Linked DNA regions of Homo sapiens: region 2 is linked to region 1. Evidence: fine-mapped expression QTL. A gene starts in region 1. The other region holds a variant in brackets. All regions are shown on one strand. Distances are between the middles of the regions.

Evidence for each region.
Region 2: its variant is fine-mapped to the expression of DHX32 in whole blood (TOPMed, PIP above 0.99).

The regions. Positions count from the first base shown.
Region 1 is chr10:125,878,632-125,884,012 of GRCh38, reverse strand. It overlaps DHX32 (DEAH-box helicase 32 (putative)), which reads left to right and starts at 2,721. Exons shown (of 11, transcript NM_018180.3): 1 at 2,721-3,470. The coding sequence starts at 3,189. RefSeq lists an enhancer at 2,409-3,131.
Region 2 is chr10:125,832,084-125,837,439 of GRCh38, reverse strand. It overlaps BCCIP (BRCA2 and CDKN1A interacting protein), which reads right to left. Exons shown (of 7, transcript NM_078468.3): 6 at 3,494-3,668; 7 at 889-1,336. The coding sequence ends at 1,166. DHX32 (DEAH-box helicase 32 (putative)) reads left to right here. Exons shown (of 11, transcript NM_018180.3): 11 at 585-1,103. The coding sequence ends at 753. Among named protein-coding and RNA genes, the nearest start is that of BCCIP, 11 kb to the right of the region's middle. The variant G/A (reference allele first, on the strand shown) is at 2,809.

The DNA of each region.
Region 1 (5,381 bases):
TACAAATGTGTCTGTCAAACAAGCTTGTCTGGCTTCTAATGCACCGGTTAGGAGAGCAGGTTAGAAAGGCAGAGAAGAGCCTCACAAGGTAAGAGGCCACACCACACAGTGGCATGGGTTCTGAGTCCCCAGGGAAGAGCAGGGCTCCAGGAGAGCAGTCTGGTCTTTGGCTTCTGTAGATTTCGGAGACATCTGAGGACATCATTCTGTTTTGGCAACTGATGTAATGGTGACCTTGAGTCACAATGAAAAAGTTAAATTGTGAGTATAGTTTATTTAAGAAGGCAGAAGTCTGGTTATCTGTTTCTGCAAGTCAAACCACCCTGCAACTTAGTAGCTTACAAAAACAGTGACCATTTGTTGTCTCATGATACTTTGGGTTGTATGGGCTCCTGTGGATGCTGCTTCTGCTCAGTTGGCTGGGGTTGCAGTCATCTGGAGGCTCGACTGGGCTGGGGCATCTTAGGCAGCTTGTTCACATGGTTGAAGGTTTATGCTGCTGTGGACTGGAAGTTCAGCTTTGGTCTCTTCCCGGTGGCTTGGGCGTGGGTACCTCATAGAATGACAGCTGGTTCTAAAGAGGAGTGTTTCAAGCATGGGAATATCTTGGAAGTGATTCAGTATCACTTAACTGCATTATTTTAGTCATAGTGACACTGGTCACAGGGCCAGCTCAGATTCAAGGGGAGAGGAAATAGACTCTACCTCTCCATTTGGAACAGTGGCAAATAATCTGTGGCCATCTTTAATTCCACTATAACAGAGAAGTGGTTAAGGCTAATGTGTGTGGATACATTGCACAATGTGTGATGAAGGGGCCAGGTAAGTCTCAGGTCTTTAGAAAGAAGACTATTCAGAAAACTTGATTATTTCCTCAGGGTTCAAAGTGGTCAGTGCTTTATAAGTAAGAATTTACTGTAATTATAAGATTATTACACTCTTAGGGAGTATTATAAATAAGAGAAACATTTCTTTTTGGTAAAAATAATAGCTGTTCTTTTTTTAAGGTAAAACAGTTAAGAAATACTACCTAAGGCAATCATTGGTTATAATATTTAATAGCAATTTAATTTACATGTAGGCTGAGAACCCTTGGAAGGGATTCTAATCAGAACAAAAGAAAAATAGAATATAAAATTAAATTTTAACTTCTCTGAAGAGTGGAATTTTCTGATTCTTGGATACCTTCCCAGAATTAGCTTGTGCGATGATCTCAAGCTACCATGCTTCCTGGAGCTATTCTGTGGGTCTACTCTCACCTTATAGAGGCAGTGAAGAGTTCTGAAGTGAATCCATATTACAACATTTCTATTATGCCTTTGTAATTCCATTTTAATTTTGAAACACTGGCTTTTAGATGAATTTTTAAGAACTTTACTTGGGAAGAGCTATGAAGTTCTTCTGCCTCTCTGGTTACTTACCTCTAAACTAGCTTGTTCATCTGTGAATTTTAAAACTTTCTATCCTGCTCTTGCTGCCATCTTCAAAATATCCTTTATGTGTGTATCTAGTGCCTAGTTTACTCATCTAATAAGCCCTTAGAAGACACTCAGCAAATGTTTTTTGAGTGATTGACTGTTGCCCTGGAGCCTGTCTTGACCAATAGAGAGAGAGCTTTTCTTATCACTTACTAATTAGGAACTAGCTGTTGAGCACACTGGCTCCAACCATCTAAAGCAATAATTAAGGTAAACCAGGTGATCCGAAAAGTGCAGTAACTTACAAAATATCATGAACTGTATTTTATTATTCTTTTTAACTTGAGTTTTCTTTTTCATTTTTATCTGGTTAATGTGAAAAGGAGCTTATTTCCAGCAACACTAATGGAATTTTTCTTTTTAATCACTAGTAATTGGAAGGGGAAAGACCCTTCACCTGACATGTGGGGACTGAGTTATTGGTATAAATCTTGCTCTTTCTTGGGTGATTTCTCTTCTTCATTTAAATTAAAAGTTGTCCTTAATGGCCTCTTGGAGCTGACATGTTGGGCTCAAGACCCAGGAATCTCAAGAAATATGCTAGAGATTTCTGGTTTAATTAAACAAAAGACCTTATTAATAAAAGCCAGCCAGCTGGGCATGGTGGCTCACATTTGAAATCCCAGCACTTTGGGAGGCCAAGGAGGACAGACCACTTGAGCCCAGGAGTTCGAAACTAGCCTGGGCAACAAGGCAAAACTCCGTCTCTACAAAAAAATACAGAAATTAGCTGGACATAGTGGTGTACACCTGTAGTCCCAGCTACTCAGGAGGCTGAGGCAGGGGGAAAACAGCCTGGGAGGTTGAGGCTGCAGTGAGCCATGATCACGCCACTGCATCCAGCCTGGGTGACAGAGCGAGACCCTGTCTTTTTTATATATATATAAAATAAAAGCCAACCATAACTACATATGGAAGGAAATAATAAATTCATTCCCCTCACTTGGCTTTCTAAACTGACATAAGCAAAAGGAAAATGAAAAGTTTTAAAAATGTTTTTCATTAAAGTAAAGGATTTCTTAATAATAGATTTTCCTGTAGCCTGTGTTAGAGGAACACTCACCAGGTCATCACAGTTCTTTCCTTTTATAGGGTCCAGCTCCTCTTTTGACATGGGATTAGGTGACCACGTGATTGATTAGCCTCACAATCACAATCCTGTCCCTCCTGTTGCTTTCCATTCACAGTTGATCAAGACGCAGAGCCTGAGATAGAGGTCAGGCAGAGAGCACGAGGCCCAGTGCAGAATCATTTTCTGAACCAGCCAGGAAATACCGGAACCCACCAAACTTTAAACACCAGCCTAAATTATTCCTGTTCTTTTAAGCAGGCAGCAGAAATGACAGAAACCCGTTAACAGAAAAAAAAAAAATAATGCTTTTCATTTGAACTCCTGTGCATTTTCTTTTTAACTTATATGTGTTCCTAATTTTCCTTACTCTTTTTGTTTGTTTGTTTCTTAGTGTGGTTTATTGACAATCATTTACAATGCCGAAGAGTGCTGTAGTGAGCCAGCACAGTGGGTAACACAGCAACGGAGAACAGATGCAGGTTTGAGGAATTTAACTTGCTAAAACCTTGAACTGAAGTCTTAGAGATTGGAACATACGGGTTTGTATAAATAGGCTTTTAAGCCCTGTTTGCAATGGGTTACTGATAGGAGAAACTTGCTTGTGGAATGTCAGCTGCGTGAGCTCACTGTCAGACAAGATGGAAGAAGAAGGGCTGGAGTGTCCAAACTCTTCCTCTGAAAAACGCTATTTTCCTGAATCCCTGGATTCCAGCGATGGGGATGAGGAAGAGGTTTTGGCCTGTGAGGATTTGGAACTTAACCCCTTTGATGGATTGCCATATTCATCACGTTATTATAAACTTCTGAAAGAAAGAGAAGATCTTCCTATATGGAAAGAAAAATACTCCTTTATGGAGAACCTGCTTCAAAATCAAATCGTGATTGTTTCAGGAGATGCTAAATGTGGTAAGAGCGCTCAGGTGAGTAACCACTACAAAAAATAATTTGCTGTATGTGTTGATTTTTTAATTGTTATTTAATGACATGTCACAGCCTAGTGTTCTAATAATAGTGTCTAAAACAAAAAACAAAACATTATTCAGATAAAATAATTAAATCACGTACCTAATTTTATTAATTTTACTAATACTAGCTGAAAAGTTAATAATATCTATGTAGAAATTAATTGTGTTTAGGGTACCACTGAATTGTCTATAGAGCAGTATTAAAATTACTCAAATGATCCTAGTATTAAATTTACTCAAATGATCCATTGTGTATATGATATTTTAAAAGATGTGATGCGTGTTATTTCCTCAGCATGGGTATGGGGATTAACTGCTCTGTTTCAGTGCCCAGTGGTCTGAGAATCCAGATATGTGGATGTGCTTGCTGGTGAAGCTGGCTGAGCTACTGAAATCAAAAGCACAAGGAAATTCTGATTTTCCTGACTATAAGAAATAACTGAGCAACTAAATATGATCCAGGCCTGGGGCCACACACTTTGGGGTCTAAGATGGGGGAAAGAATTAGGATCATTAAGAGATAAACCTAGGGATATTAAAATATTAAAGAGTTGGAGCAGGCACAGTGGCTCACATCTGGAATCCCAGCACTTTGGGAGACCAAGGTGGACAGATCATTTGAGCCCAGGAGTTCAAGACCAGCCTGGGCAACATGGCAAAATGCCGTCTCTACAAAGAAGTAGCCGGGCATGGTGCTGCATGCCTGTCGTCCCAGCTACTTGGGAGGCTGAGGTGAGAGAATCACCTGAACCTGGGAAGTTGAGGCTGCAGTGAGCTGTGATGATGCCCCTGCATTCCAGCCTGGGCGATGTGAGTGAGAGACCTTGTCTCAGAAAAAAAACAAAAAAAACAAGGAGTTTGTTTGAGCAAAGAATGACTCATGAATTACGCAGCACTCAGAACCATTGGAGGTTAGTGAGCCCCATTCTAGCAGCAAGGGCAGTGAGCTTTTATAGGCTGAACATGAAAGTAAGACAAAAGACATTTAAATTGGTTAGAGTGGAAAGTTCCGAGTTAGGGAATAGTTGGCAGTTTCTGATTGATAAAGTCTAGTATGGTTTTACTGTTTACATTGGACTTTAGTTTGCTTATGTGGGACCTTCTAGAGCTCTGTCATTGCCTCAGCCTAATGGCCTCTCAATTAAAGTTTGTTTGTTTGTTTAACGGGATAGTGGGCCAGGTGCAGTGGTTCACACCTATAATCCCATCACTTTGGGAGGCTGAGGCAGGAGGATTGCTTGAGTCCAGCAGTTTGAGACCAGGCTGGGCAACATGGCAAGATCCCAACTTTATAAAAAATTAAAAAATTAGCTGGGCATGGTGGTGCGTGCCTGTGGTCCCAGCTACCCAAGAGGCTGAGGCAGAAGGATCACTTGAGCCCATGAGGTCAAGGCTGCAGTGAGCCATGTTCATGCCACTGTACTTCAGCCTGGGCAACAGAGCAAGACCCCGTCTCAAAAAAAAAAAAAAAAAAAAAAAAAACAAGAAAAGGCTGGGCGCTGTGGCTCATGCCTGTAATCTCAGCACTTTGGGAGGCCGAGACGGGCAGATCATGAAGTCAGGAGTTCGAGACCAGCCTGTCCAATATGGTGAAACCCTGACTCTACTAAAAAATACAAAAATTAGCTGGGCATGGTGATGCACACCTGTAGTCCCAGCTCCTTGGGAGGCTGAGGCAGGAGAATCACTTGAACCCAGGAGGTGGAGGTTGCAGTGAGCTGAGATTGTGTCACTGCACTCCAGCCTGGGTGACAGAGTAAGACTCCATCTCAAAAAAAAAAAGAAAACAAAACAAAACAAAAAAAAACACCAAGAAAAACAAGGTAGTGTAGAGAAGGAAAAAGTAATAATTTTCTCTGTCCTTCA
Region 2 (5,356 bases), 47 kb after region 1:
AAAAAGGAAAAATAACTGTGGCTGCTACATGAATGGAAAGGAGGGGCAATGGCAAGAGTGAGACTACTCCACTAGTCTTTGAGAGGCCAGTACAGAGTCTGGATCCATTTTGAAGGTTCCACTACTATTCCAGCAAGTAGTGTTCAAGGCAGCAACCAAGAGTGACTCATAGATGTCTGGCTTACGCAGCTGGATGTGGAGTGGTACTAGTTAAAATAAGAAGCAAAGATACCCCCTCTCTCCCCTACCCAAAGCTCTCTTAAGCATACGATTGGTGCCTCTTATATGGTGATGGGCCTTAGGGGAAATACTAGTTTCCACTAAAGGTTAGTGGTAGACAGCACTTCCACTGTGTGGCATAACACTAGAGAGGCCAACTTATTCTAGAAATGCAACAGGATTGGCTGCATAAAAAACAGAAAGTATTTATTTTACAAAGTCGGACTGAGATACTATCTGAGTTCAAATTAAATACCGGTTCTACAGGTAGATTCTCCAGGGATGGGAAGTGCCCAGACATAATGTTTGGTGTCTCTCACCACCTTCCCCACTCATAATCTCATCTTTTTGTCTTAAATAAACAGATTTATGCAGCTGGTACCACAATACTATTTCAGTAATCTGCCTCCTAGTGAAAGTAAGGACATTCTACAGCAAGTAGTGGATCACCTATCCCCTGTGTCAACAATGAATAAGGAACAGCAAATGTGTGAGACGTGCCCTGAAACTGAACAGAGATGCACTCTCCAGTGACTCCCCAGCAAACACAAGGTGCAGCAGGGTCCCAAAGGTAGCTGGATGGCTGAACTGCTGGATATGGGAGATACATGACGCGAAGACGGATTTCACATCCACAGGACGGTCTTGAAGAAAATAACACTGTGTATATTATTTTAAAATAAAAAATAGAAGTTTTTATTGAGTTCTTTAAATTACTACTCCATGCTTTTCTTCTTCTTGGAAAAGTTTTTAAATCAACCACTCATAATTTGACCAAAATTTTAAAAAACTGGTATTTTGTAAATGTGTCAGAGACACATGGGACAGAACCCTACTTTTTGTAGAGGAACTTAATCTGAATAAAGTCTGAGTTTTTCAGTAAATCTCCACTGAGTTTTCTGGTAATTTTACAAAAACAAGCCCATCACTGTCCATTGGAAATGGGTTAGACAGATAGATATTCTTTCAGTTTATCCATGATTTCGTTCATCTTGTCGCCTGGAATTAACATCACAGTTCGCAAGGGCGTCATTGGTACGTCATCAAAAGACCATTTGCCTCCCAGACAAGTGTCGCTCTCCTCCTGCACTGAGTAGTTGAACTTGAGAATTGCCTTCTAAACCAAATAAGTAACCATGAATTAAAAATCGGGACAACCCAAAGACAAAACCCATTTGATCTACGGCAAAGAATATTACGTTTGGCATATGCTTAAATAAGAATGAGAGCTAAAAAAAAGCAAAACTCAGAATTGAAAAAGTTCAAATGGGACATTCAGGCAGAAGTTATAAAACACAAACCAAGTAGATTTTAAACCCACATGAGGAACAGGGATAGAGGTGTGCAATTTCTAAGAGGTGAACAAGCAGCTAAGTGGTATTTTCATTTAATTGTCAAAATAATCTTGTGAAACATAATGAAATTAAGACTTGTAAAATTTGATATTTAACAAGAACTTGTCTTCAAACACTCTTTTCTCACTTTCTCAGCTGCTTCCTTAGCATCAGGCTTTTGTGTGAAGACAGAGTAAATCTGCATACCCCGCCATCTTAAAACACCCATACACACTCCCCCCAAATGGTCAACCTGAGGTGTTGAAGCATATGGTTTTGTTTTTTTTGTTTGTTTGTTTTTTTTTTTTGAGACAGAGTCTCACTCTGTCACCCAGGCTGGAGTGCAGTGGCGTGATCTCGGCTCACCGCAAGCTCTGCCTCCCGGGTTCACACCATTCTCCTGCCTCAGCCTCCCAAGTAGCTGGGACTACCGGTGCCCACCATTGTGCCTGGCTAATTTTTTGTATTTTTAGTAAAGACAGCGTTTCATCGTGTTAGCCAGGATGGTCTGATCTCCTGACCTCGTGATCCGCCCGCCTTGGCCTCCCAAAGTGCTGGGATTACAGGCATGAGCCACCGCACCCGGCCTATGTTTTTTAAAAATTATGTTTACTATTTACTTCCTGGAAAAGAAGGGCACAGCTAAATTTGTAGCGCTTTAGTCTTCTGCAGAAGTCTTCAAAGTGATGTGATATCATCCAATTCAGGAAAATATGTTCCCCTCAGAGATACACTTCAAGATTTTTTTTTTTCTGAGACAGAGTCTCGCTCTGTCGCCCAGGCTGGAGTGCAGTGGCGCAATCTCGGCTCACTGCAAGCTCCGCCTCCCGGGTTTATGCCATTCTCCTGCCTCAGCCTCCCGAGTAGCTGGGACTACAGGCACGTGCCACCACGCCCGGCTAATTTTTTGTATTTTTTAGTAGAGACGGGGTTTCACCATGTTAGCCAGGATGGTCTCGATCTCCTGACCTCGTGATCCACCCGCCTTGACCTCCCAAAGTGCTGGGATTACAGGCGTGAGCCACCGTGCCTGGCTCAAGATGTTTTTGTGTTTTTTGTTTGTTTGTTTGTTTTTGAGACGGAGTTTCTTCCTTGTTGCTCAGGCTGGAGTGCAGTGGCGCGATCTCGGCTCACTGCAGCCTCTGCCTCCCAGGTTCAAGCAATTTTCCTGCCTTAGCCTTCCGAGTAGCTGGGATTACAGGCATCTGCCACCATGCCCGGCTAATTTTTTTTTTTTTGTATTTTTAGTAGAGAT[G/A]GGGTTTCTCCCTGTTGGCCAGGCTGGTCTTGAATTTCTGGCCTCAGGTGATCTGCCCGCCTCAGCTTCCCAAGGTGCTGGGATTACAGGTGTGCACCACCGCACCTGGCCCACTTCAAGATTTTTCAGAGGAAGAGAGGGTAAGAATATTCTCTGGTATATGGCTGTCCATCACAGTACAAGCTACCTTTATAGGAAAAAAATGCTGGAGATATCCCACCAGCAGGATGACATCCACGACTAAGGACACAGAGCAGCAGGGGTGCCCCAGCTTCCACACTGACCAGCTGTGTGATCGCAGGTAATTTCCCTCATTTCCCTATGCCTTAAAGTCCACATCTGTAAACCCCAGGCTAATGTCTACCTCTCCGCATGGTTTTAGAATGAAAGATTTCACAGGAAGCATATTATAAATGCCTAATCATTCTTAACAGGTTAATCACTTTTCTCCTCCTCCTCCTCATGCTCATAACCACAGTGCAGGCAAGGAGGCTGGTGCCTAGCCTCCTGAGTACCTACTATGCACCTGGCACTATGTTAGCTGCTAGGTCCTGTGGGGAAACAGAAAAACAGAGTAGCCACACTTGAAAGACTTGGACCTAAAGTGGGAGAACAATAAATCTTGATAAATCATTTTCAAGAAAATCCTTATTTACATCTAAACAAATAAGCAGGATAGTCTTACCTCATAGAAAAATTCTTCCTCTGCATTTGCAAACATTAACGCAGCTTTCTTTTTGTTGCTAGGTTTCTTTTTGGAATTGTTTTTTCCTGCTTCCACAAATGTCTTACTAATCAGAAGGTAAAAGTAGCACTTCCCACATGGCTTATTGGTTCTGTGTGCCCCCGCCAGTTCTTTCCTGCAAGGCACACACACAACATTTGTTTACCTGCTGGGTCAAGTGAAATCCATCAACAAACCAGAGCACAGAAAACCCGGTGAGGCATCTTCAGTGGGTTCTGCTGTGACGCAGGCATTCAATCTGAACACTTAGTCTACAGGAATGATTTTTATTTACATAATCAGTTGCATTTTAGATTATGTATTACTTTTTATAATACTATGATATATCTCTCAGATTATGCTGATTTGTGGATATATAGCAACTAACAGATCAGATGAGTCTCAAATTCACTCAATGTATCACTGCTCTGCCTGTGCATAAGTTAAAAATATATACGAATCTGAATTTTTGAATTTTTTAAAGCAATGAACATTTAACTGAAACACACAAAGGTATACAGCCACAACCAATGTCACTACAGCCTGTGACTACTACCACAGTCTCTAATTGCTAGAGTCTGGAACTAATTTCTGACATACTGCAGAAACTGCATAAACACACAACCTAAATTCTAGCAATGGAATCGCAACAAAGCCTTAATGTTTCTTCTTTCTGAAAATTAAACATAGCCTTGTGCATCTGGATGCCCTTGAACAAAAGAAGAAACTCAGAACAACCGTCCTCTTCAGCTTTCCTTTTTTTTTTTTTTCTTTTTTTCGTTTGGAGACAAAATCTCACTCTGTTGCCCAGGCTGTAGAGTACAATGGCACAATCTCGGCTCACTGCAACCTCTGCCTGCCAGGTTCACACGATTTTCGTGCCTAAGCCTCCTGAGTAGCTGGGATTACAGGTCTGCACCACCATACCCGGCTAATTTTTTGTGGGTGTATTTTTAGTAGAATTGGGGTTTCGCCATGTTGGCCAGGCTGGTCTCAAACTCCTAGCCTCAAGTGATCTGCCAGCTTCGGCCTCCCAAAGTGTTGGAATTACAAGTGTCAGCCACCACACCTGGCCTTTTCAAAAAAAAAAAAAGAAAAAAAAAAAGATAGGGTCTTGTAATTTTGCCCAGGCTGGCGTGCAGTGGCTATTCACAGGCACAATCATAGTATATTGCAGCCTGGAACTCCTGGCCTCAAGCATTCCCCCTGCCTCAGCCTCCTGAGTAGCTGCGACTACAGGCGTGCACCACTGCGCTTGGCTCACTTCAGCTTTAACAGGACTAGGAGAAAGCAAATCACCCTCCTATAAAACCAAATAAATGTGAGCTCCAGCTGATCAGAAAAAAAGAAAACCAAAAAAAAACAAAAACCACTTAAGGCACCAGAAGCACAATCTGAGCTACAGCTGAGAGAGCAGGGAGCAGGAGATAAGAAGCATCGAATCCCTAGGAAAAAACAGCAAACGTAAAGGTTTCCAGAGTAGAGTTGCATTCCTACAGCTATTTAAAGGAAAACCACAACGCAAGGGCTATGACCTCTGAGAAAGAATATTCTATAAAGAACCTGTCTAGGTCAAGTGCTGTGACTGACACCTGTAATCCCAACACTGGGAGGCCGAGGCAGGAAGATCACTTTAGCCTAGGAGTTCAAGACCAGCCTGGGCAATGTAGCAAGACCCTGTCTCTACCAAAAAAAAAAAAAAATTTAAATTAGATAGAAATAAATAAGAGAATCTGCCTATATTTTGTCCTCTGTTGCAAAGCACAGACAATACAATTCTTAGTACACTCAGTTTGCTAGATTTCACAGCTACATTTGAAATAT